3 separate regions of the Homo sapiens genome follow, and all the other regions are linked to region 1. Evidence: fine-mapped expression QTL. A gene starts in region 1. Each other region holds a variant in brackets. All regions are shown on one strand. Distances are from middle to middle. Region 1 holds the start of GLDC (glycine decarboxylase). Region 2 overlaps GLDC (glycine decarboxylase). Region 3 overlaps GLDC (glycine decarboxylase).

Evidence for each region. PIP is the estimated chance that this variant, and not a neighbour inherited with it, causes the effect.
Region 2: its variant is the best candidate, but not a certain one, in a credible set for the expression of GLDC in lung (GTEx, PIP 0.55).
Region 3: its variant is the best candidate, but not a certain one, in a credible set for the expression of GLDC in whole blood (INTERVAL, PIP 0.52).

What each region holds. Positions count from the first base shown.
Region 1 is chr9:6,642,376-6,648,290 of GRCh38, reverse strand. It overlaps GLDC (glycine decarboxylase), which reads left to right and starts at 2,562. Exons shown (of 25, transcript NM_000170.3): 1 at 2,562-3,046; 2 at 3,599-3,677. The coding sequence starts at 2,792. RefSeq lists enhancers at 1-12, 13-568, 1,555-1,654, 1,705-1,814, 2,795-3,352 and silencers at 2,485-2,734, 2,805-3,004, 3,045-3,114.
Region 2 is chr9:6,592,136-6,598,050 of GRCh38, reverse strand. It overlaps GLDC (glycine decarboxylase), which reads left to right. Exons shown (of 25, transcript NM_000170.3): 9 at 2,932-3,037; 10 at 5,061-5,200; 11 at 5,828-5,908. Among named protein-coding and RNA genes, the nearest start is that of GLDC, 51 kb to the left of the region's middle. The variant A/G (reference allele first, on the strand shown) is at 3,073.
Region 3 is chr9:6,602,522-6,608,436 of GRCh38, reverse strand. GLDC (glycine decarboxylase) reads left to right here. Exons shown (of 25, transcript NM_000170.3): 5 at 1,768-1,845; 6 at 3,159-3,306; 7 at 3,653-3,849. Among named protein-coding and RNA genes, the nearest start is that of GLDC, 40 kb to the left of the region's middle. The variant A/G (reference allele first, on the strand shown) is at 2,808.

The sequences.
Region 1 (5,915 bases):
AAAAACCAGGGAATACCAACGCTATCTTCAGGTCAACCACTGAAGCTCTAGTCTAGTACACAGAAATTCCTGCTGGGGAACTGCAGGACATTCCCATTGGTGGATACAGCTTCCCAGCTACCTCAAGATGGGGTGCTGGTAAGGAAGCATGTCATGTCTGCAGTGGTCCATGCATCTGTCTGCTGCAGTCAGAAAATAAGAAAACAGTTTTTACCTTTGTTCCATTTCCCAATTCTCTCTCTCTCTCTTTTTTTTTTTTTAGGCAGAGTCTTGCTCTATCACCCAGGTTGGAGTGCAGTGGTGCGCTCTCCGCTCACTGCAACCTCTGTTTCCCAGGTTCAAGTGATTCTCATGCCTTAGCCTCCTGAGTAGCTAGGACTACAAGCACGCCCACCAAACTTGGCTAAATTTTTTTTCATATTTGTAGTAGAGATTGAGTTTCGCCATCTTGGCCAAGCTGGTCTTGAACTCCTGTCCTCAAGTGACCTGCCCGCCTCGGCCTCCCAAAGTGCTGGGATTACAGGAGTGAGCCACCGCACCCGGCCCCAATTCTCATATACATATATGTGTGTATATATACATGTTTTTTTTTGGCAGAAGGCAAATAACATCCATCACCACGGAGCCAAAGGGATCTGGGAATTATTGTTCCCTGGCTTCCAGTCCCTCTGATACATAGAAACAACATAGACAGGAATAGGAATAAATGCAGATTACCTCCTCCCTCCAATCCTTCCCCACAACCCCCACCATCTGGCACTGAGGAGATCTCCCAACTTTTATGAAGGTTGTAATTTCAATTCCAAATGGCCGAAAAACTTTTCGGAGACATTCAGCCCAGCCGTCCTAGCTCACCACCCGCCTCCGTCTGCCATACAGACATTTTACCTACTGTTCTTTGTGGTGTATTTTCCTGCCCTCTTTTCCATCTCTACTTTCCTGCCTCTCTGGATAGTCTGTGCCTCCTGGGTACGGAGCCCAGAATCTGTTAAGGGTGATTGGAGGAGGAAACTTAGCAGATAAGCAAGAAAGAGAACAGGTTTTATTTTCCCCTAGTCTAAGTACAAGTAATGTTCTGATTACTTCTGTCCTCTCTTCCCCATATTAGAACAACTGGAATTTTAAAAGTTCATTCTCTTGCTAAAACTGTCATGAGACAGCTGGAGATGGTACATTTACAAAAAATCCAGTTCTAGATGGCTAACTTTCAAAGTAAGACGACAGTGAACAATGTCTATCTTAATATCCTTTGTACTTTTGCTGGGCGCAGTGGCTCACGCCTGTAATGACGGATCACGAGGTCAGGAGATCGAGACCATCCTGCCTAAAACGGTGAAACCCCGTCTCTACTAAAAATAAAAATAAAAAATGGCCGGCCGTGGTGGCACGTGCCTGTAGTCCCAGCTACTCAGGAGCCTGAGGCAGGACAATCGCTTGAACCCGGGAGGTGGAGGTTGCAGTGAGCCAAGATCGCGCCACTGCACTCCAGCCAGGGCGACAGAGCGAGATTCCGTCTCAAAAACAACAACAAAATATCCTTTGTAGTTTTACACACACACGTATATGTATATACAGTACATATATTTAAAAAAACATATACACACACACACACAGTTCTTTTTTTTTTTTTTTTCCTGAGTCTCGTTCTGTGGCCCACGCTGGAGTGCAGTGGTGCGATCACATCTCACTGCAGCCTGAAACTCCCTGACTCAAGCAATCCTCCCACCTCAGCCTCCAGAGTAGCTGGGACTTCAGAAGCACGCAACCACGCCCCACTAATTTTTGTATTTTTTGTAGAGACAGGGTTTCACAATGCTGCCCAAGCTGGTCTCGAACTCCTGGGCTCAAGCTATCCTACCGCGTCGGTTTCCGAAAGTGTTGCGATTACAGGCGTGAGCCATAGCGTTACATGTGGTGGGGGGGAAGAGAGAGAAAGAGAGAGAGTGAGAAGAAGGAGGAGGAGGAGGAGGAGGAGAAAGAAGGAAGAAAGAAAAGAAAAGAAATATAGAGAGGGTGTTCAAATCTACTGTTCAAGTGCTTTCCATGTACATATAATCTCTTTTTAAAATCCCATCCAGCTCTGTTGAGATGAGAAAACTGAAGCTCTGAGAGGTTGAGTAACTTTATCACGCTCCCGCAAAGATAAAAGAACCGCCATCTGCCCATATTAATTTCCCTGAGATGAAATGTGACAGAGAAAGATACCTCAAAATTAAGGAAATGGAGAGCTTCGAGAATCATCTTCCATCTCCGCCGAGTCCCCCAGGAACTTGGCCCGGAGTCTTTGGGCTGTCCCACCTGATCTTGCCCCAGTGCGGCTCCACACCCTGGCGGGCGGCGTACGGAGCGTCCCGGCCCCCGGCACCAGCCAGCGTCGGAGTGGGTAGGACTGGAGATGGCAGCCTCCGGTCCAGGGGAAGCGGGACTCCACGGAAGGGCTGGGAAGAGGGTAGGAAGAGGGGGCGGGGGCGGGAACTGTTCCGCCCCCTCCCCCTCTGTCTACTTTCATTGGCCAAGGGCTTCCTGGCCCCAACCCACCTCCCGCCTCCAGGGCGCCGCTTAAAGTGTGCGGAGCAGGTGCCTTGGGTGGAGCCACAACTTTGCGCGAGTGTCTTGGTTGAGCGCAGCGCCCATTCATTGCCCGCGAGCGTCCATCCATCTGTCCGGCCGACTGTCCAGCGAAAGGGGCTCCAGGCCGGGCGCAGCCGCCACCCGGGGGACCGAGGCCAGGAGAGGGGCCAAGAGCGCGGCTGACCCTTGCGGGCCGGGGCAGGGGACGGTGGCCGCGGCCATGCAGTCCTGTGCCAGGGCGTGGGGGCTGCGCCTGGGCCGCGGGGTCGGGGGCGGCCGCCGCCTGGCTGGGGGATCGGGGCCGTGCTGGGCGCCGCGGAGCCGGGACAGCAGCAGTGGCGGCGGGGACAGCGCCGCGGCTGGGGCCTCGCGCCTCCTGGAGCGCCTTCTGCCCAGACACGACGACTTCGCTCGGAGGCACATCGGCCCTGGGGACAAAGACCAGAGAGAGATGCTGCAGACCTTGGGGCTGGCGGTAAGGACCTCCACCCGGCCCTCCGCGGCCTCCCCTCCGCCCTGCCCGGGCTCTGCCTGCGCGGCCTCCCGGCTCCTACCCTGAGCTCTGCTGCGCTCCGCGTGGTCCCCGCACCCTGGGTCCCGGGCCGTGGCGTGGAAGCAAATTCGTGCCTTTGGTCCTCGTGCCTTCTTACTTCTTAACAGCTTACTTTCTCCTGCACCCAGTCTTCGTGCCTCAAAAGTGTACATTTTTAAACCACCCCCAGCCCAAGTGGCCCTGTGGATGGACCTAAACTTTGCAAGAGGAGGAAGACCCCCTGATTAAGAGTGGGCTTACCGGTTAGCTCCGGTTGCAACTGAAATCCAACCCCGAGTGGCGGAATCTCCACCCCACTTCACGATTTTCTTTCCTCCAAATCATTCTGGCTTGCTCAGAGTTTTCCTTTTCTTTTAAAAAGAACCCTAATTAGGCGATTTCAATGAGGTTCCCACAAGGCTTTGTAGTCGCAAAACACAGAGGTGACTCTTTTAACTCAGAGGCACTTTCCTCTGCCTTGCGTTTTAATTTTAGAGCATTGATGAATTGATCGAGAAGACGGTCCCTGCCAACATCCGTTTGAAAAGACCCTTGAAAATGGAAGACCCTGTTTGTAAGTGGCCGGGAGGGCTCCCTTGGACTTAGATTATTCTGGCCTATTTGTCTTTTGTGGTTCCCTGAAAATCGAGCTCTGGGGTAAGGATTGCTCAGGACTGGGAATGTGTGGATTAAAATAAAACAGTGGCGGGTACCTCCGGAGCCGCGGGAAGGTGGGATATTTGGTTCTCGGAGCAGACAGTTTTGTGTTAGGAGAGAGTCGGTGTTGTGCGGTTCTTGGTCTTTATCCTAGGGCCCCCGCGAGCTTCCCCTGCGTTTTGTAGCAGATTCCCCACTTCCCAGGCACCCTCTCACCGGCCAGGGTGCTCTCATACTTTGGGTTGAGAGGTGTCATTACCTGCGCAGACCCGGATAGACTCAAAGGATCTAGGAATTGCCTAAGGTCGTGCAACTGGGGAAGTGACCAGACATCTCGCCTCCCTCCCCCAGGCTTCTTTAGATCGCAGTATCTTCCAATTGTTTTCTTACCTCACGTCCAAATTTTATTATTTACCAACTGAAAGACAGCAGTACTTTTCGAGTCCGAATGGTTTTTCTTTTCTTTTCTTTTTTTTTTCGTTTTTTTTTTTTTTTTTTTTTGAGACAGAATCTCTGTCGCCCAGGCTGGAGTGCTGTGGCTTGATCTCGGCTCACTGCAACCTCCGCCTCCCTGGTTCAAGCAATTCTCCTGCCTCAGCCTCTTGACTAGCTGGGATTACAGGGGCGCACCACCACACCAGGCTCATTTTTATATTTTTATTAGAGACAGGGTTTCTTCATGTTGGCCAGGCTGGTGTCGAACTCCTGACCTCAGGCAATCCGTCTGCCTCGGCCTCCCAAAATGCTGGGATTACAGGCACGAGTCACTGTGCCCTACCCCGAATGGTTTTTCTAGAAAAACACACAAATAAGATTTACATTTGTTTAAGAAAGGTCAGTTTAGTCATAGACTTTCTTAGAATTTTATTTTAGGTTTAAAATATTTTTAATGGTCCAAGATTGCTTTTCAGGGGTATTTTTATGTGGGTATTTGACTTCCATGGGGTGGGGGGACAATCCATAAGTCAAGGGCACAGGCTGAGCTCTTAAAAAAAATCTCATCTGGTTATCTCACTTTCAATCATGGAGATACTTATCTCTTTTTCTTCTAGAGTCAAATGAAGAGAGAGCAGCTGTTTTATTTTGTTGCTATGATAGAAAGGATCTAGTGTGCAGATGGCAAGCTTTATTTTGTTTGAAGGTGGACATTTGAGGTATGGAGCCTATCTGCTTCAGGTTGGCTGCTCAGGCTATGCTGAGGGCTGCTGCCTTTGTTGGTTTCAAATCTGATGGTCGTTGAAAACCTGCATGTTTTGCTGAATTGAACTAATTGAGATTTAGGGATGGTCGGAGGGAAGCCTTATCTATTTCCATTTTAGAAAATCAGAATCCTGGCTGGGCACGGTGGCAAATGCCTATAATCTCAGCATTTTGGGAGGTCTAGGCAGGTGGATCGCTTGAGGCCAGCAGTTTGAGACCAGTTTGGGCAATATTGCGAGACCCCATCTCTACAAAAAATACAAAAATTAGCCGGGTGTGGTGGTGTGCGCCTGTAATCCCAGCTACTCCGGAGGCTAATGTGGCAGAAACACTTGAGCTGGGCAGTGGAGGTTGCAGCGAGCCAAGATGGCTCCACTGCACTTCCACCTGAGTAACAGAGTGAGACCCTGTCTAAAAAAAAAAGAGAAAGGAAGAAAAGAAAAAATCAGAATCCTAATTCATTTGATGTGTGAAGAGTGAAGAGTTGTGTATCTTTAAAGCAGGGTATTTTAGGTGAATATTTGAACAAGTGAATCCCTTCCTGAGACTTTCAAAGTCAGGGAATGTTTAGGTTAGCTATTTTTATAATATATATACTCTAAAATAAAGTGTTCTTTTCAGAGCATTAGAGCCTGGGAAACATGGCAAAGTTGTGTATCCTTTTTTAGTTTAGTTCTTGGTTCCAGCTGAATAATTTGAACATTAAGGGATTCTGATTCTTCACTGTGGAAGTGGGCTCCTGAAAAGTAATTTGCAACTTGAATATAAACTTAATTTTTTTATTTTTTATTTTTATTTTTGAAATGGATTCTTGTTCTGTTGCCCAGGCTGGAGTGCAGTGGCATGATCTCTACTCACTACAACCTCTGCCTCCCCGGTTCAAGCCATTCTCCTGCCTCAGCCTCCTGAGTAGCTGGGATTACAGACGTGCACCACCATGCCCGGCTAATTTTTT
Region 2 (5,915 bases), 50 kb after region 1:
CCTCTACAAAACAAAAAGGAAAAGAAACAATTTTTTCTATAAATTTGTGGCATTACTACAGATGTCTGAATTTTCATTATGTTCTGTTCTTTATATTCTCTTATTTCTTTTTTTTTTGGAGACGAGTCTCGCTCCATCGCCCAGGCTGGAGTGCAGTAGCGCCATCTCGCTCACTGAAGCTCTGCCTCCCGGGTTCACGCCATTCTCCTGCCTCAGCCTCCTGTGTAGCTGGGACTACAGGTGTCTGCTACCATGCCTGGCTAATTTATTGTATTTTTAGTAGATACAGGGTTTCACCATGTTAGCCAGGATGGTCTCGATCTCCTGACCTCATGATCCACCTGCCTCAGCCTCCCAAAGTGCTGGGATTACAGGCGTTAGCCACCATGCCCGGCCATATATTCTCTTATTTCTTAGCTTCTACCACAATGAGCAGCTCTTTCATTGGCTTTTCTTATTTTTAATATAAAAATCTTTTTAAAATAGAGATGGGAGTCTTACTTTGTTGCCCAGGCTAGTATTGATCTCCAGGCCTCAAGCGATCCTCCTGCCTCAGCCTCCCAAAGTGTTGGGATCACTGGTGTGAGCCACTGCATCCAGCCTTGTTGGCTTTTCTAAAGTCAGGTGTAGTAAAGAATAATTTACACTTTATTAGCTTTTTTTATTGAGATGTAACTCACCGTAAGTTTCACCAATTGCAAGTATACAGCTCAATGGTTTTTACTCTATTTACAAGGTTGTGCAACTATCACCAGTATTTAATTTCAGAATATTTTTATTACCCCAAAAAGAAATTCTATTCCTATGAAGTAGTCACTCCTCATCCCTCTCCCCTTCCTATAGCCCCTGGCAACTACTATTCTACTTTCTGTCTCCCTGGATTTGCCTGTTCTGAATATTTCATATAAATGGGATCATACAATGTGTGGCCTTTTGTACCTGGCTTCTTTGCATAAGGTTTTCAAGGTTCATCCATATTGTAGCATGAATGTGTACTTAATTCTTTTCTATGGCTGGGTAATATCCCATTGTTTGGACATGCTACATTTTGTTTATCCATTCATCAATTGGTAAACATTTGGGGTGTTTCAAATAAGCCTGCTGTGAACACTTCTGTGTAAATTTTTGTATGGATGTAATGTTTTCAGTTCTTTTGGTTATATTCCTAGCAGTGAAATTGCTGGGTCATATAACTCTACATTTAACATTTTGAGGAACTTCCAGACATTTTTCAAAGTGGCTGCATTATTTTACTTTCCTACCAGCAGCATATGAATATTCTAATTTCTCCGTATTTTCACCAATGCTTGTTACTTCCTATCCTTTGGTTATAGCCATCCTATTGGATGTCAAGTGATAATCTCACTGTGGTTTTGTTTTGTATTTCCCTAATAACTAATGATTTTGAGCATTCATTAGCTTTTGAGGCTTTTAAGTACCTTAATTGTATTATTGTTATTTTATTTATTTATTTTAGAGATGGGGTCTTGTTATGTTCTTCTTGCTGGTCTTTAACTCCTGGGCTAAAGCAATCCTCCCACCTTAGCCTCCCAAAGTCTTGGGATTACAGGCGTGAGCCACTGATTCAAGCCCTTTGTATTTTTAAGTTTGTTCAATTTGTGAAAGAAATTGTCATTTTCTTGGTCTCTATTTTAATTTTTTTGGTTCTTCTTTTGATATTCTAGTGCCCTTTGAAGTTTTTAAAAAGTGGTTTTATACTTCTCATCAATTTGTTGTTCAGCCGTGTGATATAGCCTCCTGATTATGGAAGGAATCATCTGTAGATTAAAAAGGGACATGAACCAACCTCTACAATATTGTGGTGGAGGCTGCCAGGGCATTCTGTGAATGTCAGGCCTGGGTTTCTGTTTCCAGCAACACAGCCATGAGCATTTGGGCACAGTGTGTCACAGATTCTTTACCTCAGCCTCGCCTTTTCCACAGCTGTAAAGTGCTGTGGAGTTTCTGTGTTTATTTCTGATTGTTGTAAGGAGTCCATAAGAGTGTTTACACTTTGTCTAGGACTTTTAGTACAAGAATGCCTACTTCCATGTTTTCTGATGTCTCTTTCTCCTCATTTACTTCCTTGTTTGCTGACTTCACCTTTGGAAACTGTTTCTTATTTTGCATTGGCTCCATAGAGACTTCCTCTAGTAGTCTAGCAGAAAAAAAGATGTACCTAACAAAATGGACCCAGTATTGAACATCAACTGTATTTTGCAGAGACAGGGTTTTGTATTGTCAACCGGGCTGGAGTCCAGTGGCGCAATCATAGGTCACTGTAACCTCGAAATCCTGGGTTCAAGTGATCCATCTCGGCTTCTGGAGTCACTGGGACTACAGTTGCACACCACCCCGCTCCCAGCTGAAGTGCGCATTGCCGTTTTTGCCAGTCCTTTGCCACAGATTCTCCATTCAACTCTTGGTTGGCAGAAGTTCAGCCTCTAGTGTTTTATTTAAGTTCTTAGGAGAATTTTATTCCTGAAGTTCTTGAATGTTTGAAAATTGCTTGTTTCTTTTTATTCTTGAAGAATTGCCTGGTTGAGTGTAAAATTCTCAGATCTCACTTTTTCTCCCTGAGGTCTTTATTGCTTCACTGTCTTCCAACATTAAACATTGCTTCTCAATGTCTGATGGTAGTGTGATCTTTGCCCTTAAGGGTGACATGATTTTGTTGCATGGAAGAAGCCCTTCGTAATGGTCAAATGTGAAGGTTTAGTATAGTAACAACTCCAGGGTGTCTTGGATGATGGTTCCTTTCAGGTAGTCAGGCAGGTTATATATTAATTGTCCCCAACTATCAAAGAATGTAGGAAATCTGATCATTTTGTTTTGTCGCTGTCTTCAGTTTTGACATCCCAAGTCAAGTAATTACACCCTCCCACTAATTGTCCTCCATCACGTGATTCTTTAAATGTTCTTATCTTTTAGGCCCTCTTGGCGAATATGGCTGCCATGTTTGCAATCTACCATGGTTCCCATGGGCTGGAGCATATTGCTAGGAGGGTACATAATGCCACTTTGATTTTGTCAGAAGGTGAGTTGGTAATCTGTCTAAAACATTTGGGCATA[A/G]TAAAATTGATAAATTTGAGTAAAATTGAAAATATTGCATGTCCAATACTATATGCAAAATTAAAAGTCAAGTGAGAAACGAGGAAAAATACTTTCAACATCCATGATTATTTTGTTGTTTTGCTTTCTTTCTTTCTCTTTCTTTTTCTTTCTTTCTTTCTTTCTTTCTTTCTTTTATTTCCTTTTTCTTGCTTTCTTTCTTTTTTTCTTGCTTGCTTGCTTTCTTGCTTGCTTGCTTTCTTGCTTTCTTGTTTGCTTGCTTGCTTGCTTGCTTGCTTCCTTGCTTAATGGAGTCTTGCTCTGTCTCCCAGGCTGGAGTGCAGTGGCACGATCTCAGCTCACTGTAACCTCCACTTCCCGGATTCATGTGATTGTCCTGCCTCAGCCTCTCAGGTAACTGGGATTAAGGTACACGCCACCATGTCTGGCTAATTTTTGTATTTTTGGTAGAGACAGGGCTTTGCCATGTTTTCCAGGCTGGTCTCGAATTCCTGACCTCAAGAAATCCGTCCACTTTGGCCTCTCAAAGTGCTGGGATTACAGGCGTGAGCCACCATGCCTGGCTTAGACTGAGTGTTAATATTTTTTTCTCTTTTACTCCTGGCAAGCTGTGATATTTTTAATATGTAGAACTCTTACTTTCCTACCGGCCCCAAACATAAGAAGGATGAACACCCTAATAGAAAAATAGGCAAAAGACATTAAATGTAATTTTAAAAGAAATAAGTATACAAATAAATGGCCAGTAGACATAGAATTTTAGCCTCATTATTAATGAAAGAGATACAAAATAAAGCAATAAACTAGTATTTATCCCATTACATTGGCAATCAGAAGAATGCTGCTATGTAGTGAGCTAGACATGGTTACTCGTGTATGTAATGTCAGCTACTCTGGAGGCTGAGCCAGGAGGATTGCTTGAGGCCAGGAGTTCAAGACCAGCGTGGGCAAGAGCGAGACCACATCTCTATAAAAAAATAGAAATAGGCCAGGCACAGTGGCTCATGCCTGTAATCCTAGCACTTTGGGAGGCTGAGGCGGGTGGATCACTTGAGGTCAGGAGTTCAAGACCAGCCTGGCCAACATGGTGAAACCCTGTCTCTACTAAAAATACAAAAATCAGCTGGGAGTGGTGGCATACTCCTGTAGTCCCAGCTACTCGGGAGGCTGAGGCAGGAGAATTGCTTGAATTTAGGAGGCGGAGGTTGCAGTGTGCCAAGATTGCTCCACTGTACTCCATCCTGGGCAACAGAGTGAGACTCCATCTCTCAAAAAAAAAAAAAAAAAGTGATTAAATCATGGTTCATCCATATGTTTGACTATTGTACAGCCATTAAATATGGTTTAAAATAGTGATCTATAGGAAAGCATAGATGAGACCAGGTGTGGTGGTTCACACCTATAATCCCATCGTTTTGGGAGGCTGAGGTGGGAGAATTGCTTGAGTCCCAGAGTTCAAGGCCAGCCTGGGCAACATGGCAAGATCACTGTCTTCAAAAAATTTAAAAAATTATTAGCCAGGTGTGATGGCATGAGTCCTTGATCCCAGTTACTTGGGAGGCTGAGGCAAGGGGATTGCATGAGCTTGAGCCCAGGAGTTTGAGGATGCAATCAGCTATGATCATGCCACTGCATTCCAGCCTGGACAACAGAGTGAGACTGTATCTCTCAAAAAAAAAAAGGTATAATTTTATATATATATATATATATCTGATACTACCTGCTCCCCCATTTCTTGAGAAATAATACACCAAAATACACGCAGTAATGCAATTGTATGTTGATTTTCCTTACTCTTTTATATGTATTTCATAATTTTCTACAGCATGATAATAAACATGTTTAGTTTTTTAAAAAGCAATCACCAAAGCACTCCCCAGGACCAACAAGAGTCTAGTAGAATTTATCTCTTTATTATTCTGTGACATGTCAATGGCTGAGGAGCAGGTTTCTATATGAGAGTTTGGGGGATCTCCTATCTTGTGTAGGTCTCAAGCGAGCAGGGCATCAACTCCAGCATGACCTGTTCTTTGATACCTTGAAGATTCAGTGTGGCTGCTCAGTGAAGGAGGTCTTGGGCAGGGCCGCTCAGCGGCAGATCAATTTTCGGCTTTTTGAGGATGGCACAGTAAGTCAAATTTTCAGTATTTTTACCAGTTTTTCAAATTTTCACATTGTTTCTCATTAAAAGGTTTTCTCTTTGTTTTTAAAAAATAAAAAGGAAAACTTTAGGCACAGTCCTATTTTTTCATAAACAAGTGTTATTTACATTATGCAACACTGTGGTCTTTTCAGTAAAGGATCATTCACCCTTTGCTTTCTTTTAGACTTAGTGTTTTCATATGTGGGACTGAAATGCACATATTTTGTTCATAATACTCCTCTCTTCACAGTATGACTGACTTTAAGATAAAGGCTCTGATAACTGATATACAGGTTAAGGGAAGAAAATCTCCTCAATATCTGATAAGTGGGTTAAGGGAAGAAAAAGATAAGCATGTCTAGCTTCAAAAGGAGTGTCCTGCAGCCATGGAATGTTAGAGTTCAGAGGTGGCTGGCAAAACTCGAAGCCTTGTGAAACCTGGGACTGGTCTAGCCACCTTCCTCTAAGCCTTAGCGTGGAGATAATTGTACCCTGATATTTTGGAATGATGGGATTTTGTTTAGCACTGTCTCCCCTTTGACCTCTCTTGGGATTCCTCCAGTGATGTGGAGTTTAGAGTTGATGTTTTCCATTTTGTTTGTGTTTCTGTAGCTTGGTATTTCTCTTGATGAAACAGTCAATGAAAAAGATCTGGACGATTTGTTGTGGATCTTTGGTTGTGAGTCATCTGCAGTAAGTA
Region 3 (5,915 bases), 40 kb after region 1:
TATTTTGTTTTTTTTGAGACAGAGTCTCACTCTGTCACTCAGGCTGGAGTGCACTGGCGCTATCTCGGCTCACTGCAAGCTCCGCCTCCTGGGTTCACGTCATTCTCCTGCCTCAGCCTCCCACGTAGCTGGGACTACAGGTGCCCGCCACCACGCCCGGCTAAGGGTTTTTTTTTTTTGTATTTTTAGTAGAGATGGGGTTTCACCCTGTTAGCCAGGAGGGTCTCGATCTCCTGACCTCGTGATCTGCCCGCCTCGGCCTCCCAAAGTGCTGGGATTACAGGCGTGAACCACCCCGCCCGGCCCTCAATTGTTTTTTTGAGGCAGGGTTTGACTTTGTCACCCAGGCTGGGGTGCACGATCTCAGCTCACTGCAGCCTTGACTTCCCCAGTTCAAGTAATCCTCTTGCCTCATCCCCCCAAGCAGCTGGGACTATAGGCCCATGCCACCATGCCCAGCTAATTTTTGTATTTTTTGTAGAGATAGGGTTTTGCCATGTTGCCCAGGCTGGTCTTGAACCCCTGAGCTCGAGCAATCCACCCACCTCAGCCTCCCAAAGTATAAGGATTACAGGCGTGAGCCACCATGACCGGCCAATTTTATTTTTTTAATACAAAAATTGGCTGGGCATGGTGGCACATGCCCGTAGTCCCAACTATGTAGGGGCGGGGTGCTGAGGTGGAAGGAGCACTTGAACCTTGGAGGTCGAGGTTGCAGTGAGCTGTGATGGCGCTACTGCACTCCAGCCTGAGCGATAGACCGAGACCCTGTTCTCCCCCCACCAAAAATAAAATAAAAATAAATAAATAAACTATTTTATTTATTAATTTATGTATGTATGTATTTATTTATTTAAGACAGAGTCTCGCTCTGTGGCCTAGGCTGGAGTGCAGTGAGGCGATCTTGGCTCACTGCAACCTCTGCCTCCCGGGTTCAAGCAATTCTCCTGCCTCATCCTCCCGAGTAGTGGGATTACAGGCGTGCACCACCATGCCTGGCTACGTTTTGTAGTTTTAGTAGAGCTGGGGTTTTGCTATGTTGGTCAGGCTGGTCTTGAACTCCTGACCTCAGGTGATCCACGCACCTCGGCCTCCCGTAGTGCTGGGATTACAGGTGTGAGCCACCGCACCTGTCCAGTTTACACTTGTATCTAATCACTGTCCTTTGCTTTATTTTCTTTTTCCTCATGGTATATTTGAAACATTTTGAACCATTTTTTAAAAATTGTTATTGAGTAAACATAGAAATTGAACCATCTTAAGACTGACTTTCTAAATGGGGTTAGAATGGGAATTGGATCTATGAGGAATGCTAATCAGTAAATGCCATTAGTTACTGATGACTCAATTTTTTTTTAAATTTTTTTTTTGAGACAGAGTTTTGCTCGTCTTACGCAGGATGGAGTGCAGCAGCGGTGCAATCTTGGCTCACTGCAACCTCGGCCTCCCTGGTTCAAGTGATTCTCTGGCCTCAGCCTCCCAAGTAGCCGGGATTACAGGCATGCACCGGCTAATTTTGTATTTTTAGTAGAGACGAGGTTTTATCACGTTGGCCAGGCTGGTCTCGAACTCCTGACCTCAGGTAATCTGCCCGCCTCGGCCTCCCAAAGTGCTGGGATTACAGGCGTGAGCCACCGCACCCGGCCTACTCAGTATTTTTTATACTGTGCTTAGACTTACCCTCGGTACTATGTTTGCTTTGCGTTCTTAGAAGATAGTCCTATTTATTTAATGTTCACGTTGGAATGTGCTTTTTCTTTTCAACAGACACAACAAGAGGAGGAAATTTCTCGTTGATCCCCGTTGCCACCCACAGACAATAGCTGTTGTCCAGACTCGAGCCAAGTAATTAATTTGATTCGTGTTTTAAACTCAGTATAATGTCATGTTCATCTCTGCTGTTTCTTTCTCTTTCTCACTTCCAAACTGATTGGAGGTGAATCTGAAACAGGGTTTTTTGCTGTTTAAATTGGGGTTGCTGAGTTTTGCCTTACCTCTCACTTTCTTCTGGGCATCTCTCTGGTAAGTAAACTGTGTCAGAATTGAGTGGGGAAATACACAATTGCCATTGCTTTATAGTAAGTTGTGTTTTGTTTTCTTCTTCTTCTTTTTTTTTTTTTTTTTTTTGAGACGGAGTCTCGCTCTGTCGTCCAGGCTGGAGTGCAGTTGAGGGAACCTAGGCTCACTGCAAGCTCCGCCTCCCAAGTTCACGCCATTGTCCTGCCTCAGCCTCCCGAGTTGCTGGGACTACAGGTGCCCGCCACCACGCCTGGCTAATTTTTTTTCTATTTTTAGTAGAGACGGAGTTTCACCGTGTTAGCCAGGATGGTCTTGATCTCCTGACCTCGTGACCCGCCCACCTCCGCCTCCCAAAGTCCTGGGATTACAGGCTTGAGCCACTGCGCCCGGCCCGTTTTGTTTTCTTTTTGTAGAAAGAATAAAAATATTGTTTTGATCAGGTTTTGGAACGTTTGAAAAACAGAGAAAAATGGGACTCACATACAACTGTTAAGATTTTGTGTGTATTCCTTGCAAACGTAGTTTACAGAGGGTGTGCAGAGTCCCTAGGTGAGATGCTATGTAGTTTAAAGTGTAGTACTTTTCTTTCGTGCTGTAATCAGGTAAAACAATCCTCGCAACAACCACTATTGGTAGATATTTGCTTTCCCTTTGTAAAAGTTGAGCATTCTTCCCCCTACCCATACCACCATCCCTTCAGAGGGGGGGTTTCTGACATATAATTGGCATTATTAGTTCAGGAATCTAAGGAAGTTCTTCCTCCTTGTCTTACTTATGGTTTTCCATTC[A/G]CTTAAGAGTGATGCCAGTGAAAGAGGTGATGGCTCTGTTGTTAACAAATATTGGCTCATTAGCCCTAGGAAGCAATGCTCTTGGGCCTCTCTGAGGAGTAGATTGTGACAGGAAAGGGCAAAGGGGAGTCAGAGGATAGAAGAGAGGAACAGAAGCAGAGCTGTTGGATGCGCTTGAGTTGCTGTGATGTAGTTACCACTGAAGTGCCTGTGGGACGGGATGTGGGCAGGGGTGGGAGGCCACTGTGGGAGGGCACAGAAAATGAATGCTGTCTTACTGGAAAAGAAACGTTAATTAATTTTCCCTTATAAACCGAAAGCACGATTGTTCTTTGTTGTCTGTCTTTCCAGATATACTGGAGTCCTCACTGAGCTGAAGTTACCCTGTGAAATGGACTTCAGTGGAAAAGATGTCAGTGGAGTGTTGTTCCAGTACCCAGACACGGAGGGGAAGGTGGAAGACTTTACGGAACTCGTGGAGAGAGCTCATCAGAGTGGGGTAGGTATACCTTTCTTGTGGGGGGTCCGTGGAGGCGTATCCCAACTTGTATCTGTCTACCTATCTCTCTCTCTGTCTTTTCATGTGCCTTAATTTCTTTACCATTATCACATGGAATGGTAAAACTCTCCTTCCTGACTCCTTGCTGCTACTTTTTTCTGTTCCCGGATTCCTGGCACATGGTGGGCACTCAGTATGTATTTACTGAATGAATGAATGAGCAATGGAGTTCACAGGATGTGAACACACTCTGCCCGTCTTCCTGTAGTTAAGATAATTTCCTACTCTCCCACTACTCTCAGGGAAAGGTAGCAACCTTGTTCCTTTTCTCTCACTTCCTTTCTAGAGCCTGGCCTGCTGTGCTACTGACCTTTTAGCTTTGTGCATCTTGAGGCCACCTGGAGAATTTGGGGTAGACATCGCCCTGGGCAGCTCCCAGAGATTTGGAGTGCCACTGGGCTATGGGGGACCCCATGCAGCATTTTTTGCTGTCCGAGAAAGCTTGGTGAGAATGATGCCTGGAAGAATGGTGGGGGTAACAAGGTAAAGGGGCTCATGTTTCTCTACTTTTATTGTGATTATGATTTCCCTGATTTCTTCTGATCACAAATGTTGATTTCTATCTGAATTCAACTGGGCCATGTTGAGTCAGTTAAGGAAATGTACAACATAGATTCAGAAGAACAATTCTGTTTGGGATATGAGCTAGTACTTCTCAAATACTATAAATTTGTAAATTTTTGAAAAATTTTGTGTATAATTTACAATGTATCGAAGTCATGTAACGCATTTGCTTAGATTGATGGACGCCTTGAAAGACTAAATATTTTAGGCATGTTTTGTGTCTCGACAGTTTTCGTTCTCAAAAGCATTATGCCACGTGGCTCTGTAAAGACAAATGCACTGAGACTGCAAAGTACACACTGAGTTTGCTCCGCGTTCCTTCCTAGAGGCTTCCGCCACGTGGCCATTTGAGTAATTTCCAAATTTCCAAATGTACTTTCCTGACTGCTTCTCATTGGTGAAACTTCTCAGATTAAAAACGTAGATGTTCAGAAGTAGTCTTTGTTCCTTAAAAAAAAAAGAAAAGAAAAGAAAAAAAGGGCTGGGTGCGGTGGCTCACACCTGTAATCCCAGCATTCTGGGAGGCCGAGTCAGGCAGATCACAAGGTCAGGAGTCCCAGACGAGCCTGGCCAATATGGTGAAACCCTGTCTTTACTAAAAATACAAAAATTAGGTGGGCGTGGTGGTGGGCGCCTGTAGTCCCAGCTACTTGGGAGGCAGAGGCAGGAGAATCACTTGAACCACGGAGGTGGAGGTTGCAGTGAGCCGAGATCGCGCTGCCTCACTCCAGTTTGGGTGCAGAGCGAGACTCCATCTCAAAAAAAAAAAAGAAAAAAAAGGAAAAAAAAGGAGCGGGGGACCTAGATGCATTCCAGGATTATTACTGGGGAAATTTAGAAAAAAAAATTATGTTTTTGACCTTTGATAAAAGCTGGACTTTAACATAAGTGAGTAAGCTGAATTAGTCAATGATGTGATGATAATGTGAAGTGTGTTTTTTTAAAATTTTATTTATTTATTTATTTATTTATTTTGAGACCAAGTCTCACTCCATCACCCAGGCTGGAGTGCAGTGGTGTAAACGTGGCCACTGTGTCCAACTAATTTTTTAAATTTTTTGTAAAAACAGGGTTTCACCATATTGCTCAGGCTGGTCTTAGGGCTCAAGTGATCTGCCCACCCCAGCCTCCCAAAATGCTCGGATTACCAGGTGTAAGCCACCATGCCTGGCCTCTGTATACTTTAAATCATCTTATTAACACCTAATGTTATGCAATGGTTGTTACACTGTATTGTTTTTAAAAATTTGTGTGATTTGTTTTTTTTTTTTTATTTTTTGAGACGGAGTCTCTCTCTGTCACCCAGGCTGGAGTGCAGTGGTACGATCTTGGCTCACTGCAACCTCTGCCTCCCAGGTTCAAGTGATTCTTGAGCCTCAGCCTCCCAAGTAACTGAGATTACAGGTGCCTGTCACCATGTCTGGCTAATTTTTGTATTTTTAGTAGAGATGGGGTTTCACCATGTTGGCCAGGCTGGTCTCAAACTCTGGACCTCAGGTGATCCGCCCACCTTGGCCCCCCAAAGTGCTGGGATTATAGACATGAGCCACCATGCGCGGCTCATAAAATTTGTGTGATTTTTAATTGTTGTATTATTTTTTATTTTTTTGAATGTTTTCAGTCCGTGATTGGTGGAATCTGTGGTGTAGAATCCACAGAGAGCCAAGTCTTTTCAATTTTGTCGTATATTTCCACTTTTCCTGTGTCTCCTAAGAAGTTCAGAGTGAAACTTAATCCTCCCAGTCACCATTATTGTATTTGTCTGGGAAATTCCTGCAAAATTTTCTTTCAAAATTCCTAGACTTATTGTATATATCTTGGTGTCTCAGAGTACAGTCTAAAAATCAGTAATCCTGCTGGGCACAGTGGCTCATGCCTGTAATCCCAGCACTTTGGGAGGCCAAGGCAGGCGGATCACCTGAGGCCAGGAGTTCAAGACCAGCCTGGCCAACATGGTGAAACCCCATCTCTACTAAAAATACAAA